Linked DNA regions of Homo sapiens: region 2 is linked to region 1. Evidence: fine-mapped expression QTL. A gene starts in region 1. The other region holds a variant in brackets. All regions are shown on one strand. Distances are from middle to middle.

Region 1 (14,260 bases):
GAGCTTCAATATTTAAAGGGGAAAGTGGTCAGGAAGGGAAAGAGGGGGGGAAAAAGAGGGAGGGTATGGTCACACTCTTGTGAATCCACACATTGCACAAGAAAAGGAGGGGAGAGAGGGAACAGTTGATGTATTCATATCGTGCTCAATAAATCTGCACTTTACATAAGGTAAAGTAAACATAGAGGAAGCAGCAAATATGCATTTGTCTTGGGGTGGGTGGGGTGGGGGGACGGGATGATTTCTAGTCTCCTCTTGTCCCATACTTGTGAAGATAACGTGTTAATTTACATCATCGGATGAGGGAGGTCCCCTTTGGAGATACGTGGCCATCTGTCAGTTTAAGACAAAAGGAAAGGTAGTTTTGGTTTTTAAAAATATTTTTTCATGACTCAGTTTCTGAGCTTAACTTTTCCCTTTTGGCATAGTGATTTTATTTTCCTTCCACAAGACACTATATTATATATGGTAGTTGTTAAGCAAATGTGACTTTCCTTTTCTTCCTTTATAGTTCCATGAGGGAAGGGCTGGTGTCTAAGACATGTCTGTGTTCCTACTGTCTAAATCACTTTTGTTTCTCATATTTACCATAGTGATGAACACATGGAAGATGCATAACTCTTTGTTAAACTTAACTACTCATTGAACCTCTTTCCAACTTTTACTTAGATTGCAACTGTGAAGGTCGGTGGGGTGTGGAGTGTGGGTGAATGAGAAGCATGTGGAGATCAAGTGTTGATTCAAGGTGTATCTTTATTATTCTGAATATGTCTGATAGTAAGGAGCAATGAGTTCTATTTTTGTGTCTCAATGCTCATTCTACTTTACTATAATGATTTTGCTATAATAATTATATATTTTACTAGAATAAATAATTTAACTTCTATGTGTCTTGTTTCTTCTTTATATGGGGATATAACAATATATGTATGATTAATCTGTGCATAAGCAGTAGAATTAATTGAAACATCAATGGATTACTTGAATCGTATTGGCTGTTTAATCATAGTTTTTTTTTTTAATTGAAAGATAAAAGAATATAAGACTCCAAATTGCAGAGTATAAGATTTGGCTTTACTGAATGAGAACAAATAAGTCTATGTAATGGGATCATGGGCAAGCCTCCCTTGCAGAAGTCATTCAAGAAGCGAATTAACAATTACAAAGCACTTTGAAACTCTGAAGCTTAATATTTACCTAAAATGTGTAAATTAGATGAAATATTCAAACACCAGAGATACATAAGAGCTAATATTATATATAATATGTTATATATATTTAAGCTATTTTATTTTAACAGCATTTCACAATGAACTCCTTAGTACCACACCAGGTTACCTATAGCAATTCTGCCAAATCTAGTTTATTTGCAAAATCACAGATTTTTAGACCTACAAGCGATATTATAGTTCTATACTGATCTCATTTATGCAAACACCCTAGTTTTATGGATGAGGAAAATAAAGCTGATAAAAGTTAATTTGTCCAGTAACAGAAAGCCAATTTGTCACAGAGTTGTGACAAGAACAGTATCATCAGCTGTTTTGCTTCTCAGTGCAGCTCTCTTTCAATCCCTTCAGCTCCCAAATGGAATGGACTTAGTTCCTGGAGCACAGCACAACTCTTGAGCAATTCCTGTGATGTGCAATCTGGGGAGTGAAGGCAGGATAAAAAACCAGAGAGGCCTAGCACAGTGACTGACATTTGTAATCCCAGCTACTCTGGAGGCTGAGGCAGGAGGATTGCTTGAGCCCAGGAGTTTAAGGCCAGACTGAGCATCATAGTGAGAGCCGGTCTCTAGGAAAAAAAAAAAAAAAAAGCAAAAATCCAGAGGGAGGAACATTATTAACTGTAGCTCCCTTTTCCCCGACTCAGACTTGCCCTTTAAGGACGTCAGCAATCACATGTCTGGCACCTTCCACCAGAAGTAAGCATGACTCTCCCTTTCAGGTGGGCCTTACTGATATTCTTCAGTAGTGAGTCAGATATCAGTCAAAGAGTGTCTCAGTCTATTTATTCTATTTCCAAAATAATGTGGAGCAACCCTCTGTCCATTTCTGAAAGGTGTGGGTCTTCCTCACCACAGCAGCACAGGCTGGTGTAACAACATGGCTTTGGGGCTGGGTGCCAAGGGGTTTGCTTGCAGCTTACTGCTGTTGGGGATGTCCAGTTAAAAACAAAATCTCCTGGCACCCCAGTAGACCCACAAGCAATTGACTAGAGATTGTGAAGACAAAAATAAATCTCACACTTTATATAGGCAAGCAGATACAACCATTTCATACGTGTTCTTAAGAGGAACAATAATTAGTCCTCAAGTAAGAGGACTTGATAGCACCCTTTGTCACACCTTGTTCATACCAAATTCACTTGATAATTAGGGTTATCACCCTTATTAACTAATTGGGTTGATTTAAAGGAAAAATTAACTTATTTTATCTTTACGACTGGGGGTAGGTTTCAACTTGAAGCCAGGTAAACAGCTTAAGTTAGGCTCCTACTCTCCCACAGAAATAGGAGATAGGATAGGGCCACTATCTTCTTTGATTATTACTTTGCAAAGGAGTGGCTGTAGGGTCCTTAGACACTGCTGCATTGTAAGGCTGGCAAGAGGCTTACTTAGCCTTAAAAAAAAAAAAGATTTGCATACATTTCAAAGAGACAACGAAAGAATTTGCAATGACAAGATTTATAAGGCAAATGCTTTAAGCAAAGGGAGGAAGGGAAACCTCTTCCTTTATTTTCAACAGGAAGAATTAAGCCTCTTATTCTTAATTTGTGTTTGCCTTTACATTCCCAAGCTGGCTAAGCCTGATCACCCTCTTCAACCTGTTTTCCTGGGGCAGAAGCTGTGAACTTTAATTTCATTCAAACACAACTCTGTATTTTGGATACTGTGTGTCTTTTTTTTTTTTTTTTAGACTCTAACAAAAATATTAAACTGCACTGGCCAGGCAAGGTGGCTCATGCCTGTAATCCCAGCATTTTGGGAGGCCGAGGCGGGTGGATCACCTGGATTGCCTGGATCACCTGAGGTCAGGAGTTCAAGACTAGCCTGGCCAACATTGTGAAACCTTGTCTCTACTAAAAATACAAAAATTAGCTGGGCTTGGTGGTAGGTACCTGTAAGCCCAGCTACTTGGGAGGCTGAGGCAGGAGAATTGCTTGAACTCGGGAGGCGCAGTTTGCAGTGAGCCAAGATCATGCCACTGCACTTCAGCCAGGGCAACAAGAGCAAAACTCCGTCTAATATATATATATAACATTTATATCTAATAATAATTTATTATATATAAATTATATATATATAATTTATATATAATAAATTATATATATAATTTATATATAATAAATTATATATATAATTTATAATAATATATTATATATAATATATATATAATATATATTATATATATAACATATAATATACAATATATTATATATAATAATTATATATAATATATTATATATATTATATATAATAATTATAATATATTATATAAATATATAATATATTAAATATAATAATATATAATATATTATTATATAATATATTAATATATTATATATATTATACTTAAAATAAAATATACTACCTTAAGGAAGAAAAATAAAAACTTACAAAAGGCCTTGCCAAAAGCATTGGTGTCTAGAAATTATGCTTAGTGCAATTATATATGCACTAATATAATATAACATATATTATATATGATATCATATATGATACATTATATGTTATATATGATATATTATATATAATATGTATTATTAATATATTATATACCATATATTATATTATAATTATAATATATTATATTTAATATATATTTACTATAATATATTATATTATATTTAATATAATATATTATATTTAATATAATATAATATATTATATTTAATATAAATATACTTAATATAATATATATTATATATAATATTTAATATAATATATATTACATGTTATATATAATATAAATAATATATATTATATATAACATGTAATATATATTATATAATATATAATACGTTATATATATAATTGCACTAAGCATAATTTCTAGACACCAATGCTTTTGGCAAGGCCTTTTGTAGGTTTTTCTTTTTCTCCCTTAAGGTAGTTTATTTCATGGGTAATAATCCTGTTGAATTTGCTTAGTAGTTATAGCTTGTGATTCTGTGAGAAAAGAAAAATCATTACATAGTAGTATCAGGGATTCTATGCTAATTCTGGGCTAATTACTGGCCATTCTCCATGTGCATGATGATAGCGAGCGTTTGCTGGCTGTTTTGTATGTGTCATGTTCTGTTCTAAGTGCTTTAAATATATTATGTCATTTAAATCTGAGTAGAAGCTTGTGAAGTTGACACCCTTACTATTGTATCTGCATCTCACAGATAAGGGAATCAAATGAGAAAGTTTGTAACTGGCTAAACATTATACATCTAGTGAGACATGTAGCTTGGCTTAAACCCCAGCAGTCTGACTCCCGAGGTTCTACCCCACTAGCACAGAGTAAAATACAGTGGCTGAAAACAGGGGCCCTATAGCGCGACAAGGCTGGGTTCAGATTCCATCACCGTTGTTTACTAGCTGGACAGTTTGCCTACCTGTGTTGTGCCTCAGTTTCCCAAATGCTGATAATATAAGCCTTATAAGTGCTTGTGACGATTAGTGAAATGTGTACACAGACTGTGTGCAGAATCTGACATACAGAAAAAGTGGGGAAACACTAGCTTTCATGAAAAATAGATCCTCAGACACTGAAGTCAGGCTCCATGGCTCCCCCTCATGGAAATACTGTAACTTACTGCATTTCGAACGGCCTCTTGGTTTTATGCCCCTCATCTGTTCCTTAGTAGTGCCTATGACTGCTGCACATTCTCCTCTAAATTACTTTTGTAATAACCTCATTAGAAAATGGTAACAGTCTCAGTACCTCATTCAACAAAGTGTTTGATGGCTCACCATGCACCAAACATTGTGCTAGATATGAGGGATAGAAGGATGGTAAATTTAAAAAGGTAGGCACCCCGCCCCACAGCTGCTAATATATAAGAGAAAGACGCAATTGCAATTGTAACAAGAGCCCCCAAAAGGGAAATTCAGTGCCCTATGAAAACATACAGCTAAGGCAAGGGCTGATTTACCTGAAGCTAGTAAATTTCAGGGCCTCTTGCTTGCACAGCTCTTCCAAGGCCCCAGGGCCATTTCTTTTTTCCAGTAAAATTCACAAAAGTAAGTTATTTTAACAAAAGGAGTTAAAATAATTCTCTTTCCATTCCTATTTCTGTCAAAATTCCTCTCATGTTGGATGATGTTGGAGTGGTCACCAGCAGTTGGGGTGTCTGCTAAACTGAATTGGGGAATTAATTTATTTCTTAGATCAGTTCAGAAATACTTGTGTGGTTTGTTGTCACTTCACTATAGAGTTAATGCTCTATACTGTCCTTTGGTGGGGCTGTCTTCCAGCAGACTGGACTATACTTTCTGCCCACCTTGTGACATTTATGTGCAGGGCCAGAGGTGGTATTGAAATGTAGAAGTGTCCAGTGGTACTCAGCTCTGGAAGTAAATGGGAATTGGAGGAGAAGCAAAGTTTGAATTGTTTAAAGTGTATGAAGCCATAAGCTAGTATCAAATTATGTAAAAGTGTTAGCAGAGGATATGGTTTCATGGATGCATAGTCAAAACAGAAGTTTGTCCCCATCATGAATATTCACAATTTAGTGTTTACTATTATGAATGCACCATGCTTTTTAAAAATATGATAATAATTGCATACAATAGAAATTTTTAGAAATTCTGTCTTGGCCAGATACAAATCTGTGGTGGTCCTATGAGTGGCAAATCTAAGTGTGTGTGAGGTATGATTTAGCACTTGAACTCCTTATTCTCTCTATTAAAAATATGCTTATAAAATCTTCAATAAAGGAAGAGGTGATCAAAGAGAATGCAGCTCCGAAATGTAGACGGAAATTGCAATTAGAGATGTGTTAGACATTTAAGTAGTTTGAAACATTACTTTATATTTGTGTGAAATTTAGGATACTGTAAATTTTTTGGAATTTGTAATTTGTTCTAATTTCTTCTTATATTGTAAGTTAATATTCATTTTTGCATCTAATTTTGTAATCTTTTTCTTAAATGGCTTCCCAAAGTTTATAAGCTTCAGGTACCACCAAACTTGGATGCTTCCCTAGTAGGAAGACCTGAATTAGTGTAGAAGTCAAGGTAACTTTTCCTGAGAAAACAAAATCAAAGCTGACCCCTGATTATGGGGTCAGAGGCAGCCATACTAGGGTGATGATGTGAAAGTGGGGAGAGGAGGCATGTGTGTGAGGGGAGCAGCCATTGCTGGAGTGTAGGAGTCTGCCAGTCACTAAGGCTGAACCATCAGATAAGAAATCAGAAGAAATAGCACCAAAGGGAAAAATCTGTCCTCATGATCCAATCACCTCCCACCAGGCCCCAATTCCAACATTGGGGATTACAATTCGACATGAGATTTGGGTAGGGACACAAATCCAAATCATATCACCAATGTTGCAACTTCTTCTTAGAAACAAGATGAACCCCACTTTTAGGCCTTTTGATTTCAGGAAATATTAAAAATTAAAAATAATATAACCATTTTTTCTGTTCATATTCAAGACAAGCTAGTGGTATAAATATTCAACCATATATTCAAGGATGAAGGTAATATCATTTTATTTTATTTTATTTAAATTCCATTCCTAGCCCTATCCATTCCTCCATGATTGTGGGAATTGTGGGAAATTCAACCTTAGTCATCTTTAGTGCCCTGTCTCCTTTCTTCCCTCTCGGTATCATAAGAAGGACACCAAGTCCTATACAGGCCTTTAGGGGAGGCCTCTCTGATTTTCAGTTCCTAGTGGTTATATTTTTCCTAACTGGTTTATTCCTTTGAGGTTCCAACCCTCTGCTTCTGTACCAAGCTTGGAGAACGACAGTAAAACAGAACCCAGAGTCCAGGCTGCCTAAGTGTTTTATGTAGCTATTTCCCTCTGACTAGATTGTAGAGTGTGGGTAACGTAGTTTGGATGTGTGTCCCCACCCAAATCTCATATATTGAAATGTAATGCCTGGTGTTGGAGGTGGAGCCTGGTAGAATGTGATTAGATCATGGGGGCAGGTTTCTCATGAATGGTTTAGCACTATTCCACTTGGTACTATCTTCACCATAGTGAGGGAATTCTCCTGAGATCTAGTCATTTAAAAGTGTGCCCCTTTGCCTTCCATGAGTGGAAGCTTCCTGAGGCCTCCCCAGAAGCAGATGCCACCATGCTTCCTGTACCGCCTGCAGAACCATGAGCAAATTAAACCTCTTTTCTTATAAATTACTCAGTCTTAGATATTTCTTTATAGGAATGCAAGAATGGACTAATACAGGGGGTCTACCTAAAACTTTTGCAAACTTCTTTTTCATGTCTAATGTATGGTTGTGGTAGACAGAATTCTAAGATGGTCCCATGAGTCCCAGTCCCTGGAATTCATGCTCTGTATAATTCCCTTCCCTTAAGTATGGACAGGAACTGTGACTCACTTCTAGTTAACAGTATATGGCAAAGGTGAAAGAATTGTGCAGATGCAACTAAGATCCTGTGAAAGAAAAACAGAATATAGGGACTGTGAACTCACTATGCCATAAGGAAAGTTAAGCTTGGAAACTCAGTCACCAATACTGTCTTTTTTGTTGTCGTTGTTCCCAAACTGATAGCTGTAATTTCATAATCCCAAGACATAGCATCATTTCCTCTACTCCCTCTTTTCACATGTTTACTTTATCTTATGTAAAATGTAGATTTACTGAGGCTAATCAGAGCCTCAAAAGAATGGAACCATCTGCCTCACTGTCTACCCTCTCTTCCTTTTTTTTTTTTTCTCTCCTGCTTGCTCTTTCTTTTTTAAATAAAGAATTTCCCAAAACCCCCTTTGGAAAAAGCATAGGTTACAGATGCTCTTGTGAGTTGCATTTTTTTCCCAGACATGTTCTCAACCTTGGCTAAATGATCGCTAACCCACAGAGATCTGCCTCAGTCACTTTTTGGTTTGCAGTCCCAAGTCAGTTGATTTTAGTTAATCAAAAAGGGGTTAAGACTATTTTCAGTGGGCCTCACTTAATCTGGTGATTGTCCTTAAAAGATGGGCTGGGGCCTCCCTGAGGTACAGAATTGTCCTTGCTGGCTTGATGTAGTAAGCAGTCTGCTGAGGAAGCCCACATGGGAAGGGATGGAGGTGACTTCTAGAAGCTGAAGGCAACTCCAGCCAACATCCAGCAAAAATGTGGGGCTGTCAGTTATATGGTTATGAGGAAAATAATTCTGCAAACAATCTGGATGAGCTTGGGATCAGATCTTCTCCAGCTGAGCCTCCAGATAAAAACAGCCTAGTTGACACCTTGATTGCAGTCTTCTGAGACCCAGAGCCAAGGATCCAGCTAAGCTGTGCCTAGACTCCTAACTCCTGGGAACTGTGAGATAATAAATGATTAATTGTTTTAAGTTACTTATTGTGTTACTCCATTCTCACAATGCTATAAAGAAATACCTCATACTGAGTAATTTATAAAGAAACGAAGTTTAATTGACTCACAGTTCTGCAGGCTATATAGGAAGCATGACTTGAGAGGCCTCAGGAAACTTACAATCATGGTGGAAGATGAAGGGGAAGCAGGCTGTCTTACACAGCTGGAGCAGGAGGAAGAGAGAGGGTGGGAGGTGCCACACACTTTTAAACAACCAGATCTCCTGAGAACTCTATCAGGAGAATAGCACCAAAGGAAGAAATCTGTCCCCGTGATCCAATCACCTCCTACCAGGCCCCAATTCCAACACTGGAGATTACAATTCAACATGAGATTTGGGTAGGGACACAAATCCAAACCGTATCACTAATGTTGCAACTTCTTTTTAGAAACAAGATGAATCCCACTTACAATTTGGTTTGGAAGTCAAGAATAACAGTGCCATACATATATCAAGAGCTTAGGAAAAGTTTTATTATTGATATATTCTCAAGGTTTTTTTGGGAGGACAGAAAATGCCTCCTAAGCTGGTCTAAAAGTTATTTAAGAGGGCAAGTGTTCTGGGCTGAATTGTGTACTTCCCTCTTCTCCCAGCCAAATATATACATTGAACTCTTAACCCCCAGTATGTCAGAATGTGGCTATATTTGGAGATAGAGTCTTTAGGGAGGTAATTCCAGTTAAATTAGGTCATTGAGGGTGGGCCTTAATCCAACACGACTGGTGTCCTCATAAGAAGAGGCAATTTAGATATGGAAAGGTACACAGGAGGATCATGTAAAGACACAGGGAGAAGATGGTCCCACAGTGGCTCCACAAGAAACCAACTCTGCTGACTTGTGGCCTCCAGAATTGTGAGAAAACAAATTTCCATTTAAGCCACCCAATCTGTGGTAGTTTTGTTCCTGGACCAAACTGAGGGTCAGGCTGCTATTTCTTGCTGCCAATAATGAGATGTCGATGAACTGGGGATGAAGAAAGTTTTTATTTCTGTAACCAGTTACAGGCAGAAGGCCTGGAAATTATCACCAGACCAACTCAAAATTACAAAGTTTTTCAGAGTTTATATACCTTATAAGCTATATGTCTACATGTAAGTGTACATTCCTCTGAAGATATAAATGTTTCTTTATCAGCATTTGGAACATGCCAGGCAAATAGTAAACACTCAATATCATCTACCATCAGCCTCAGCCTGGGGCCTCACACCCATCTTCTTTTATCTAAAATTCTGAATTAGCTATGAATATTCTCATTTTACGAATGAGGAAAGAAATGTGATCTGAGCTAATGCCTTGTGTCAACAGGTATATTACACTAAGATGGAGAATGATATACTGAATCTGTGTTTGCCTTTAACGTGTGTTTAACTTCGAGAAAAAAGCCAAGGCTGGGCGGTCGCAGTCACGCTGCATCCGGCGACAGGGGGCGGTGTGTCCTGCGAAAAGTCAAAACGCCGGAAGCTGCCCTTAGTGTTTTTCAGCCTCTTGGTCTTAGGGAAAGTGAGGCCGTGTTTTACATCCAACATATTATTATTCTGATAATATGTGACTTGGCGCCACGCGCACTCTGCACTTAAACACGCACTTAAGGGATAAACACATACGACTGAAAAAGAGTTTCGCCCTTGATAGGCAGTGTATGGGGTGCGCAGCTGCAATCTGCAAACCCTTGCAGGGCGCGGGGTTTCGTACACCCGCTCAAGGACGCAAAGAACCTCCATTCTCTGCCATACAAAGCACTCCTGGCCCAGAGAGCAGGAAAGAGCATCAGCTAGGCCCAGCTAGGCGGCGCCCTCGGCCGGACTCTGAAGGTCAGGGCCGCTGGGCGTCCACGCCGCCTGGGTCCCAGTCCCCGTCCCATCCCCCGGCGGCCTAGGCAGCGTTTCCAGCCCCGAGAACTTTGTTCTTTTTGTCCCGCCCCCTGCGCCCAACCGCCTGCGCCGCCTTCCGGCCCGAGTTCTGGAGACTCAACATGAAGCTACCGGCCAGGGTTTTCTTTACTCTGGGGTCCCGGCTGCCCTGTGGCCTCGCTCCTCGGAGGGTAAGGCGGCCGGGGGCGCGGGGAGCGAGGACAGGGCGTCTCGACGCGCAAAGAGAGAGGACAGGGCGTCACGGGGGCTCGGGGAGCGAGGACAAGGCATCCTGGGGCGCAAAGAGAGAGGACAGGGCGTCCCGGGGGTTCGGGGAGCGAGGACAGGGCATCCCGAGGCGCAGAGAGAGAGAGGACAGGGCGTCCCGGGGCCTCGGGGAGCGAGGACAGGGTGTCCCGGGGCTCAAAGAGAGAGGACAGGGCGTTCTGGAGCGCTAAGAGAGCACAGAGCAACCCGGGGAGCGAGAGAGAGGACAGGACGTCTCGGGGCGCAAGAGAAAGGGCAGGAAGTCTTGGGGCACAAAGAGAGGACCCGGCGTCCCTGGGGCTCAGGGAGCTAGGACAGGGCGTTTTGGGGCGCAGAGAGAGAGGACCACCAGGTCCCGGAGCGAAGGGCAACGCCGGGAGTGAGCACCGGGGCCCGGGTCGTATTCCACTGTCAGATGAAGCCCTGATGTGTGTAGGGGAATAGGGAAGAGACGTGATTTTCGAAGTTTTCACAGTTCTGCAAGTTTCCAACTTGTGTGTAAATAGGTAGAAAGAGGTAGGGAAGGATACGGCGCCCGTCCACCCCTTAAGGAGTGAGAGGGGATCAGGCCGAGCGAGCACTGACCTTTGACGTCCTTTGTTGTGAGGAAAGTCCATCTATGTGTTAGTTATGGAATTAAACACTAATACAAACAAATTATCATAAAAATGAAACAAAAACAAAACCCCAGCTGTTTATAGACTCCCCTTCCCAGATGTATAGCTGGGAGAGGTCCGTCTCACACTGGCTTCCCCCTCTCTCTGGCCCACACTCCTGTCACCATCTCCATTGCACCCATAGTGGAAATAGCTAGGAAGTGAAAACAGCTAGGAAGAAGAAAGAGAAACAAAAACAAAAAGAAGCAATAATATCCAAGACAAGCCCTCCCCACATCTAAATTACAAAATTGTTATAAGTAAACTAAAAAGCACATTTTCTTTAGCCAGGTAGAAAAATTAATATGTCAACTGTGAAAAAACTTCTTTTGATTTGATAGAATAGACAGCCATGGTGTTGTTTTTCAAAAAATATGGGCAGCAGTAGTTCCAAATAGGAATACAAAGAATTAGTATGGTGGTTCCCTCAAGTAAGGTATCTTTCTTTTAAAAAGTGAGATTTGTTCAGGGTTAGGGTTTTGCTGATTTTTTTTCTCTCCCTGTGAAAACTGGGTTATAGATCATTATAAAGGAAGCCCATATTTTCTGATACTTTTCAGAGACATTTCTCATTTGAAATCTACAACAGCTCTGTGATGTCTTCAGAGATTTCATTTTTTAACACACATCATTAGGATTGTAGCAATAAGGTCATACAGACCTTATCCAAGCTCTTCTGACACCATTAGACAATACAGTTTGAGAAGGAGAAAATGAACTCATTTAAAAATTAATTGTAATCTGACAATTTTGAAATTCCTTTGCTGAAGAAAAATATGGAAGTTTTGAGGTTCAGGGTTGGGAGGCAAGAGAGGTACCTGTTAGTGTGGTTTGTCCCCTTCCTAGCACATGTAGCCTCAAGTTTGAATTCCTGGGAGAAGAAAAGTCTTTACATCTGTGATGTGGGAGGTTGTTCCAGGGAACATCATGTTTTTGTGGGCAAATACAAGTTGTTATAATTAAAACCCCTAATTTGAATATTTTTGTTACCAAGAACCAAGGCAAATGTTTAATTTGTTATAAAACCTGTTTGTGAAGTGCTGTGTTAAATTGTGCTGCTGGCTAATAGGCCTCATTTCAATTTAATAAATATTTATTGAGGACTGGCTTTATGTCTGGCCCTGTGCTATGCCCTGGGACTCAAAATTTAAAAAATACGAGCCCTGCTCTCAACTGTTCTCAAGTTGCTCTCAGTTCTATTGAGGAAAACATTCAGTCATTCAGTTGTTTATGAGGAAACACTAATTAATTAAGTACCTATTAAGTATTGGGCATTCTTTGGCAATTTGTGGTTGAAAGACATTCCTGCCTTCAATGTACTATAGTCTCATATATGTATTTTAAGCCACAAATAATAACCAATGAGTAGGCCTTGAAATCAATTTAGTGGAGCAAAACAGCACTTTGGGAGGCTGAGGCGGGTGGATCATTAGATCAAGAGATCAAGACTATCCTGGCCAACATGGTGAAACCCTGTCTCTAGTAAAAATACAAAAATTACTGGGTGTGGTTTCACACGCCTGTAGTCCCAGCTACTTGGGAGGCTGAGGCAGGAGAATCGCTTTAACCTGGGAGGCAGAGGTTGCAGTGAGCTGAGGTCGCGCCACTGTAGTCCAACCTGGCGATAGAGTGAGTGAGACTCCATCTCAAAAACAAAAAAATGGAATAGAATAGGATATATCTAAATTCATCTCATGTAGTAAGGTTGTTCATTTTGTGAAACTTTAAAAAAAAAATTTACCATTCTTCCTTTTTTGATTCATTCTTTGATTACTATCATGCACACTGCCATGTTTCTTTTCCTTTTGTTTTTATCAAGAGTAATAACTATCCAACCTGATCAACATGGTGAAACCCTGTCTCTACTGAAAATATAAAAATTAGCCGGGCGTGGTGGCGCGTGCCTGTAATCCCAGCTACTCAGGAGGCTGAGGCAGGAGCTACTCAGGAGGCTGAGGCAGGAGAATCACTTGAACCTAGGAGGCAGAGGTTGCAGTGAGCCAAGATCACGCCATTGCACTCCAGCCTGGGCAACAAAGTGAGATTCTATCTCAAAAAGAAAAAAAAAAAAAAGAATAGTAACTATCAAGAGTAAAATCACTATTTTTAGAAAAATGATTCCTGGCCAATATTCAGCAATACAGTTAACAAAGTAAGATATGACCTCAAACTGGCCACCTAGAATTAACTTGGGTTAGCATTTGGTGTATATCATTCCAGGCATCTGTTCTGGTAAAAGGATGGATAGGCATAATTTTACTTGGATGTCACATTTTCCCTTAGTCAACATTGTTTCATTGTTTTCTCACGATGAATATTGTCTTGGAGCAGTATAAAACCAACTAGATGTGTTTTCTTTATTTTTTTTAAATCTGGAAGCCTAAGTATTTCTTTATTCAGTGTAAAATTCTGGAATATAAGCTCTATGCAGGCAAAGATTTTCAACTGTTTTGTCCACTGTTTATACCTAGAACAGTGCTTAGCATAGAGTAAACATGTAACAAATATCTGTTACATGAATGAACGTGTGTACTGTGTTGCTATGAACATGTGTATGTTGCTATATAAATCACATTTCTTGCTATGGTTCACAGTCAGAAAAATCTGAAAAATGATAGTCTAGTGAGTCACCAGCAGACATCAATAGACTGTGAAGATGCAGATGTGTATTATAATGCATATATGACCCAAACTGTACATACCTAGAGGAGGCAAGGAAAGCTTCATGGAGGAGGTGGCCCCAGGAGCCTGCTGTTAAATCAGGAGTTGGAATTTGTGTGGTCCCAATGGCAATATAGACCTAAGGAATAGCATGTATCAAGAAGTGAAAGAGTGGCTTATTTATAAAAATTCAAGTGGTTTGTTTGGTATTGTGGAGTTGGTGAAGTATGGGAACAGAGAGAAGCGTGTGGAGACGAGATCAGTCAGGTTGCTGGGGG
Region 2 (8,000 bases), 22 kb before region 1:
AACATCCAACGTGGTAAAAACACTGCAGTCATTAAGAGTCACTATCCAGCACTTTAGAACTAATTACCTTACATCTTTCCCCTGGACTTCTCCTTGGAAACATACATATTTCATAAAGTAAAGCTAAGTTATGATTGAAGAGTTACAATACTTTAAAATTTTTTTGATAACTGATGCATGTATTTTAATTTCACTACAATAGATGCTGTAAGTCTGTTTTAAAGCAATGATTTCTGGAAGCTGCAATCTCAAATGAGTTATCTGCAGGCAAGAGCAGACTCACTTGGCAGGACAGAATGCAGGCAACTGCGTTAGTTATGGTTTTTCTAAACAACCGACTTTAAAATTCTATTTATTTTACTTTTAAAATATACAGAGAACAGTGGAAACTATTTTAACTGTTAACAAAAACTAAATCTACAATAAGAGCACTGGAAAGTTAGTAGACATTCGGACACATAAAAAGGATCAATTTTAATATCTCTTTGAATCCTTTTTATCCTTTATCTCCTAATAAATATTCCCCCATAACTTATACTTCTTTCTTAGTGTAAAAGCCAACTAACACTTTACTTATATACAAATAACTAGTTTACCAATTAGTTCACACAATAATGTAACAACACTAGGACAGATTACAGAGCCAGTTACAGACAAAAACAGTAAGGAAATGTTTAACACATATGACTGTGTGTTACAGTCAAACATGACTATAAAACTATGACTGAGTAGATGTGAGATTCTTCCTGCTTTCCCAAAACACTAAAGTTGAATGATTTTTAAATTATCTACAGCTTTCTATTATTCACACTGTCATTCTTAATTATGCCATAGATAACAGTTTACAGTAGCCAGGGAGCAGCTAACTGTAGCTTAGTTCGATGAAGTTTGAGCCAGGTTCCTAAACATATGTGTATGGTAGCCTGTTAGGCCTCTCTAATGGCTCTACCAGAGTTCTAACTTTATTAGTGTCATTCTTTAACAGCTGGCTTCTCCACTAAGTGCCATGAGGGCAGAAACTGTAACTTTTTTTGGCTCATCATTATATCCACAAGTCTATCTTGCCTGCTTCACTGTAGGCATTCAATACATATTTACAAATAAACTGACATTACAAAATATAAATAAAAATTCAACTTAATAATTTAAAAGTGAATAAAAAGTATAAACATCCTTCAATTCCCTCAAGTATAGATTTAAGTATTAAAATTCTAGAACTTGAACAATGTATTTTGGTTTTGTTTTGAGAACACTGATAAATTTGAGCCCCAATACTTGGTAAGATCAATCTTGAACAAAAAAATACAAAACTGTATTATCTAGAAGCTAACCAAATGCTGGCTATGACTCCAACATGGGTTATTCTTAGTAATACCTACATTTGATATATGATAGACACATTCATACATAGATAATTGATAACACAGTGATCAAAAAACACTATGTTCTAGAATTTCAAATACCTACATAAGCCTTTTTCTCTTTACCAGTGTAATGATGAGAGCAAGAAAGAAAAGACTAGTGATGAATGTGAAGAGATCATTGAAAATCATTACGTCTGAAGCATTACATTCTAGAAGTTTTAAAGCATTTCTGACACTCTAGTAATTTAATAAACTAGTACAAAAACTGGAAAATAGGAAAGTAACCTGTCAGAGACCTAGGCTAGAGGCATATTGACTGAATATAACGATACTACAAATATAAAGTGATCTCCAATTTCTATCATTAAAAAATTAAAATGTTTTGGGTTCGTTTATACAGAAACTTTAAGAGCTACAAATAATTATGTTTTATTACACAGTAACTGGTACATATTATGAATCATACATTCTATAAAATGATATTAATCTAGAAATTTTGCTTTTTCCCATTCACATTTTCTATTTAAATTCTTTACATGATCTTCAATAAATTTCATCTAACCTACAGTATATCATTTTCACTTCTGTACGAAGATTTTGCAAATACAGAATTTTTCTGAATCCATGTATAATTCTGGCTCTAGAAACTGTATCCCAAGCCACACATACTTATTTGTTCAATATCTGGACAGCTGTTTATTTCATTAGTCCTGCAGGCATATGTTCATAATTTCTAGAACCATTTACTATATGGCTTTTTTTTTTTTTTTTTTTTGGTGATCTTGAAAAGGCTAGACTACAGTGACATCCACAATTTGCAAATGTGAGGTTCCATATCCTGAAAAAAATTACTAATACTAGTCATATTTCTTACCTTCGATTTAAATTAACTATGTAAGGTGACTTCTATAAGCTTCCTAAACTGTCAAACTTTCATTTACTGAGATTATTTCAGGCCAATGTGTCTGTTGGGTCTGAGATTTGATTATCAGCTGGTAAGTTAACCTGTTCCTGTTTCATGGATGCTGGCAGAAGACAAACACTCCTGAGTCACAGCAAAGCAAGCAGCATGAGCCCCAGTATGTTTGCTGCAGGTCTCCTCTCTGACCAAGTCCCATAGGGAAGACGTAGAGGGTACATACAGTGAAAGGTACATACAGTGGTGTGTGTTACAGGAGAGAGGAACACTGAACTTGGGAAACCACCGGTATTATAACAAGCTTTAAGCAAGCCTACATTTTGTCACAGGAAGGAAACATTACTTCATCCCTCGAGGTTTCTCACTGCAAACATACCCTTGAGAAATGGTCTGTGTAAAGGAGGGTCAAGGCTTTGCATTCTTGGCCTATTCAGCAAATTGTTTATGAATGCAAGGGACCCATGGAGGACTCCATCTCTCAAGAGTGTCTCACTAAAACAATACTTGTTGTTTGAAATAATTAATACACCATCCTACAACATGAGAGACTTTGTAAAACTCAAATAAAAGCCAACTCCCCCTCCTTTCTGGGGGATAATCTCCTTACATTTAGACATACAAATCTCCTCTATTAGAGCACAGATTATTGAAATTAAACACTCCTTTTAAATGTATTCTTCTAAAAATGACTTCATCTACTTTACTACTTTGATGACAGTCAAGGAAAATGAGATATTGCAAATCATTTCATGTACATGAAGTTATAACTGTCATATCCTGTTTCTTGGTAACAGTGCAAAGATGTAGACATAGCTGTACTAAATAGGACTGTATATTTTATTGGAAAAAATATTATAGTATGCCTCCTAATTTAAATCCAGGACTAGCAGTCATGCTTTTTTGGAACATTAGAGGTACTTATGTAATCAAAGGCGTCACCACAATTTATTTCATATCCTTTTCGTAACCCATTCCTTCTACTAATGTTTATAAATTGAATCTTTTTTCTGTTAATTGAGTACTCAGACAAATAAGCCTTCAACAAGCACATCAAAATGGATCCAGATAGGTATAGGACTCTATTAAGGCAAATAACTAAATATATTTAAAAATTGTATTATCAATTGCCATCATCGAATATGGGTTAATAGGATAAATAACCTGTCCCAGTTAACACCGAATTAGGAGGGATTCAACAATCTTATGGTAGGGATGTTGTATAGTCGTCATGTACATTGATACAATCAAAAATTGAATCTAGAAAAAAATTATGTTGAACTTGGTCAAAAACAACCTTAGGTTAAACACAACTGACAATGTGAACAAAAAGAGGAATCAACGACTAATTCTAAAAACTCCAAGACCATGAAATATATCTACTAGTAGTGAAAACTTATCAGACTCCTCTATCCTCAAGTATAATCTAGAATTAAGAATAGCTCACTATTTGCAGCTAGAGTCATTATTTACAAGATTTATGTACTTCCTCAGGGAGGTTCCTCAAGAGGCTTCAGGGAAAAATGTGATTCTGTTAAAATACTATGCAAGTTTGTAGTTATGTCGGTGAAGTTTCTTGAGGTGAGATCAGTGCTTTCAACTTCTTTTTTTTTGAGTCGCCCAGGCTGGAGTGCAGAGGTGGGATCTCAGCTCACTGCAACCTCCACTTCCTGGATTCAAGGGATTCTTAAGCCTCAGTCTTCCAAGCAGCTGGGATTACAGGCACCTGCCACCACACCCAGCTAATTTTGTATTTTTAGTATGTTGGTCCCACTGGTCTCGAACTCCTGACCCCAAGTGATCTGCCTACCTTGGCATCCCGAAGTGCTGGGATTACAGGCGTGAGCCACCAGGGCTGGCCTGCTTTCATATTTGCAGGAGTTCAGTCAGGGTGGTGGGAAAAAATGTAGAAAGATGCAAACCTTGGAAGGCCAAAAGGTTTTACATCAGTTTCGGAACAGGATTTGGCTGAAAGCAGCCAGATTCTTTTATACGGTGCCTGAAAGCTTAGGTTAGATAACGGGATGTTAAGAAACTGATC[T/C]AGATAAGTTACTTAGCTCGGAACCTGGCCTTTAATCATTCGTAGGACTGCTCTCTCCTGGGAGGGGAACCATGTTAATTATCCACAAGTGTGTTGACTCAAAGCCTTTGCCATTATATCTATACTGAATAAATGACCACAGCAACAGCTAGTCGGGACCGCGGCTGCTAACTCTTTACAGCACCCTCCTCAGTGTCTGTGGGTGGCCCAGCCCCCTAGCTCACTCTTTCACTGGATACCTGTGTTTGAGTGCATTTGTTCATCTGTCGCTGGGTCAGGGTCTGCGGGTCAGACCTGGCACATACTGAGGGGTCTTGGACTCAAAAAATTTTAAGAATCTTCTATTTTAAAATCTGAGTATATTTTTCCAGAGTCCAAATATATCACATTACCTGCCAACTGGAGTATAAATACAAAAAAACTTCCCAGATAAAAATTATAAACAAAGAGGAAAACCTGATTTTTTATTACTTTTAAAAGCAGACAGCTGTTATCCGGTATAAACAGTCCCTAAAAAACTAACATTAAGCCAAATAGCTTATAGCAGCTCAAAACACATTAAAATTAGCAATAAAATTCCTAACTGGCATAACATTTAAAATTTTTTTTTTAATGTTACTTTAAGTTCTGGGATACATGTGCAGAACATGCAGATTTGTTACATAGGTATCCATGTGCCATGGTGGTCTGCTGCACCTATCAACCTGTCATCCAGGTTTTAAGACCCACATGCATTAGGTATTTGTCCTAATGCTCTCCCTCCCCTTGTCCCCCACCCCCAAACAGGCCCCGGTATGTGATGTTCCCCTCCCTGTGGCCACGTGTTCTCATTGTTCCACTCCCACTTATGAGTGAGAACATACGGTGTTTGGTTTTCTGTTCCTGTGTTAGTTTGCTGAGAATGATGGTTTCCAGCTTCATCCATGTCCCTGCAAACGACATGAACTCATTCTCTTTTATGGCTGCATAGTATTCCATGGTGTATATGTGCATAGGTATGGACATATACCCAGTCTATCATTGATGGGCATTTGGGTTGGTTCCAAGTCTTTGCTGTTGTTAATAGTGCTGCAATAAACATATGTGTGCATGTGTCTTTACAGTGGAATGATTTTTAATCCTTTGGGTATATACCCAGTAATGGGATTGCTGGGTCAATTGGTATTTCTGGTTCTAGATCCTTAAGGAATCACCACACTGTCTTCCATAATGGTTGAACTAATTTACACCCCCACCAACAGTGTAAAAGCCTTATTTCTCCACAGCCTCGCCAGCATCTGTTGTTTCCTGACTTTTTAACTCAGCTAGGTAGGTATTACTCTCAATTTTGCAATGAGTAACTGGAGCTCAGAAAAACTAAGCTCCATTCCCAAAGCTATGGTGCTGTTAATATTCTGGACTATGTGGCTTGCAAAGAGGGCTGCTGCACCACACAATTCCAGAGCTAACTGTGGCGTGATGCCTGGAACTGACATATGTGCTCTTCTGACCATGAGGTTACCTCAGTGCCATTTACTGTCTTTCCATTTTTTTCTTTAAATATTAGCACATATTTAACATTTGTTTCAGAGATACAGAATAACCAACAAAGAAATTTGGGGAACTCTTTCTTTACAAACTAACAAAAAACCTTCCATTAATAATACCGAACTATAACACAGCAACTATTACATCCTGAAACAAGCATTAAAGAGGGAATTAACTTAAATAAAAATCAATGCTATCATATAAGTGACATCTTGTTATATTTAAAATACATAATATACCTTTCAATTTGTGGAGGCTGCTTCTTGGACTCAACTGCTTTCAGGAATTCAGTAAAATATTCTGGCTTTACAATTGGACGTCCACAAATGAGTGCACATATTGTCTACAATGAAGAAAACATGTGAATATATATATTCACATGCTAGCATTTTTTAAAGAAAAGTTTTAAGTTATAAACTACAAAGAGGCTGTTTACATCCATAAAAAATAATGTTTTCCCTTTCATCTCTCTAAATTTATAAAGAAGCCACAATCTATAAAATAGAAGTCGGTCTTTGGTCACTGCATTATTTTAGAACATAAATCACAGTATAATCACTCAATTATAAGAAGTCACCGATTATAATACTAATTTTTAAAACTGCTTTTTTGGAAAGGGTGGAACAACATAAAATAAAATTCAATTTTAAAATGCATTCCACTTTCGAAGACATTAAAATGTTAAAAATATATTTCAGAATTGAGGAAATGTAACATATCTGCTTCAGGGAAGACAATATTAGGAGATGAACATGAGCTATTTTTAGACTAATTGTCTTTCAAAAAGATTGTAACTATGCAATAAAGCCTTTTTGAGAAAGTAAATAAAATAATTTTTGGTAAAAGCACAAAATAAGTACATATAAAGTGGAAAAAAAGAAACTTAAACTCACATGTGAATTAAGCTATAAGCCTCAAATATGATACATCCAAAAAATATGACAAACATTAGAAAATGCTACAGTGGGCAATGAAAATAAGATTCAGAATAATATAAATATGCTTTTTTATTTTTGAGACAGGGTCTCGCTCTGTTGTCCAGGCTGGACTGCAGTGGCGTGATCCTGGTTCACTGCAGCCTCAACCTCCTGGGCTCAAGCAATCCTCCTGTCTCAGCCTCCTGAGTAGCTGGGACTACAGGCACATGCCACCATACCCAGCTAATTTTTAAAATTTTTTGTAGAGATGGAGTCTCACTATGTTGCCCAGGCTGGTCTCAAATTCCTGGGCTCAAGCAATCCTCCCACCTCGGCATCCCAAAGTGCTGGGATTACAGACGCAAGCCACTGCACCCAGCCATGAATATGCTTTCAATAACACAGGGTATTTTATTGTCTAAATAGGGGCAAGCAGATTTAGATTGTCTCTCAAGAATGGAACCTGAAAGATACCACTTTCCAATGTGAAAGAAATAAACTAGCATGAACCAGTAATGTGCAAATCAACACTGTATTGGGTAAACTCTAATACATGTGACTTGGGAAATTAATTGGTCCATGCCTCAGTTTACACTTCAGAAAATAAAAGTTGAACTGAACGCTTTTTTTGTTGTTGTTGTTGTTGTTGTTTTTAAGTAGCTAATAGTAAGAATAAATGGTCTTTAAATTCCTTTTTGGCTCTAACATTCAATGATTTAAAAAATATAAGCTAACTGTACTTTCAGAAAATTTACCAAAAAAAAAAATATAACAACAAGGTTTTCTATTTTGGCATATGAATGACCAGGAATTTTTTTTAACAAATTACTCTGTAAACCACGTTGGTGTGTGTAATGGAGCAATTCACAAGGTGGTCATCAGCATCCCACTCGCTGGAAGTGTCCAGGTCTGTCACAGATGTAGTAAAATATCTCTCAAGACAATTTAACTACCTTTGATTGTATTTCACACCAACCAAGCTAGTGTATGATTACTTACTCTATTTCTTAAGTAATATCTTAAAGAGGACTGTGCTAGGGCCCACACTTAAATATTCTGGTAAAGGTGCATCCCTACTGAAAACCATAAATGGACACTTTGATTTGTAAATCTACTATTTGTAAGTTTATATGCATATATTAGTACTCTGGAGGCTAATCACACTGCTGAATTTATAAAATCAATTTCATAAATGTGCAAAAATAAAAAAACCCTTGATTACAGACAACCCCACC

Evidence for each region. PIP is the estimated chance that this variant, and not a neighbour inherited with it, causes the effect.
Region 2: its variant is fine-mapped to the expression of DECR1 in whole blood (TOPMed, PIP above 0.99).

What each region holds. Positions count from the first base shown.
Region 1 is chr8:89,990,973-90,005,232 of GRCh38, forward strand. DECR1 (2,4-dienoyl-CoA reductase 1) reads left to right here and starts at 10,505. Exons shown (of 10, transcript NM_001359.2): 1 at 10,505-10,589. The coding sequence starts at 10,521. RefSeq lists enhancers at 9,849-10,143, 10,992-11,131 and a silencer at 10,422-10,521.
Region 2 is chr8:89,972,133-89,980,132 of GRCh38, forward strand. NBN (nibrin) reads right to left here. Exons shown (of 16, transcript NM_002485.5): 5 at 6,088-6,191. Among named protein-coding and RNA genes, the nearest start is that of NBN, 8.5 kb to the right of the region's middle. The variant T/C (reference allele first, on the strand shown) is at 4,322.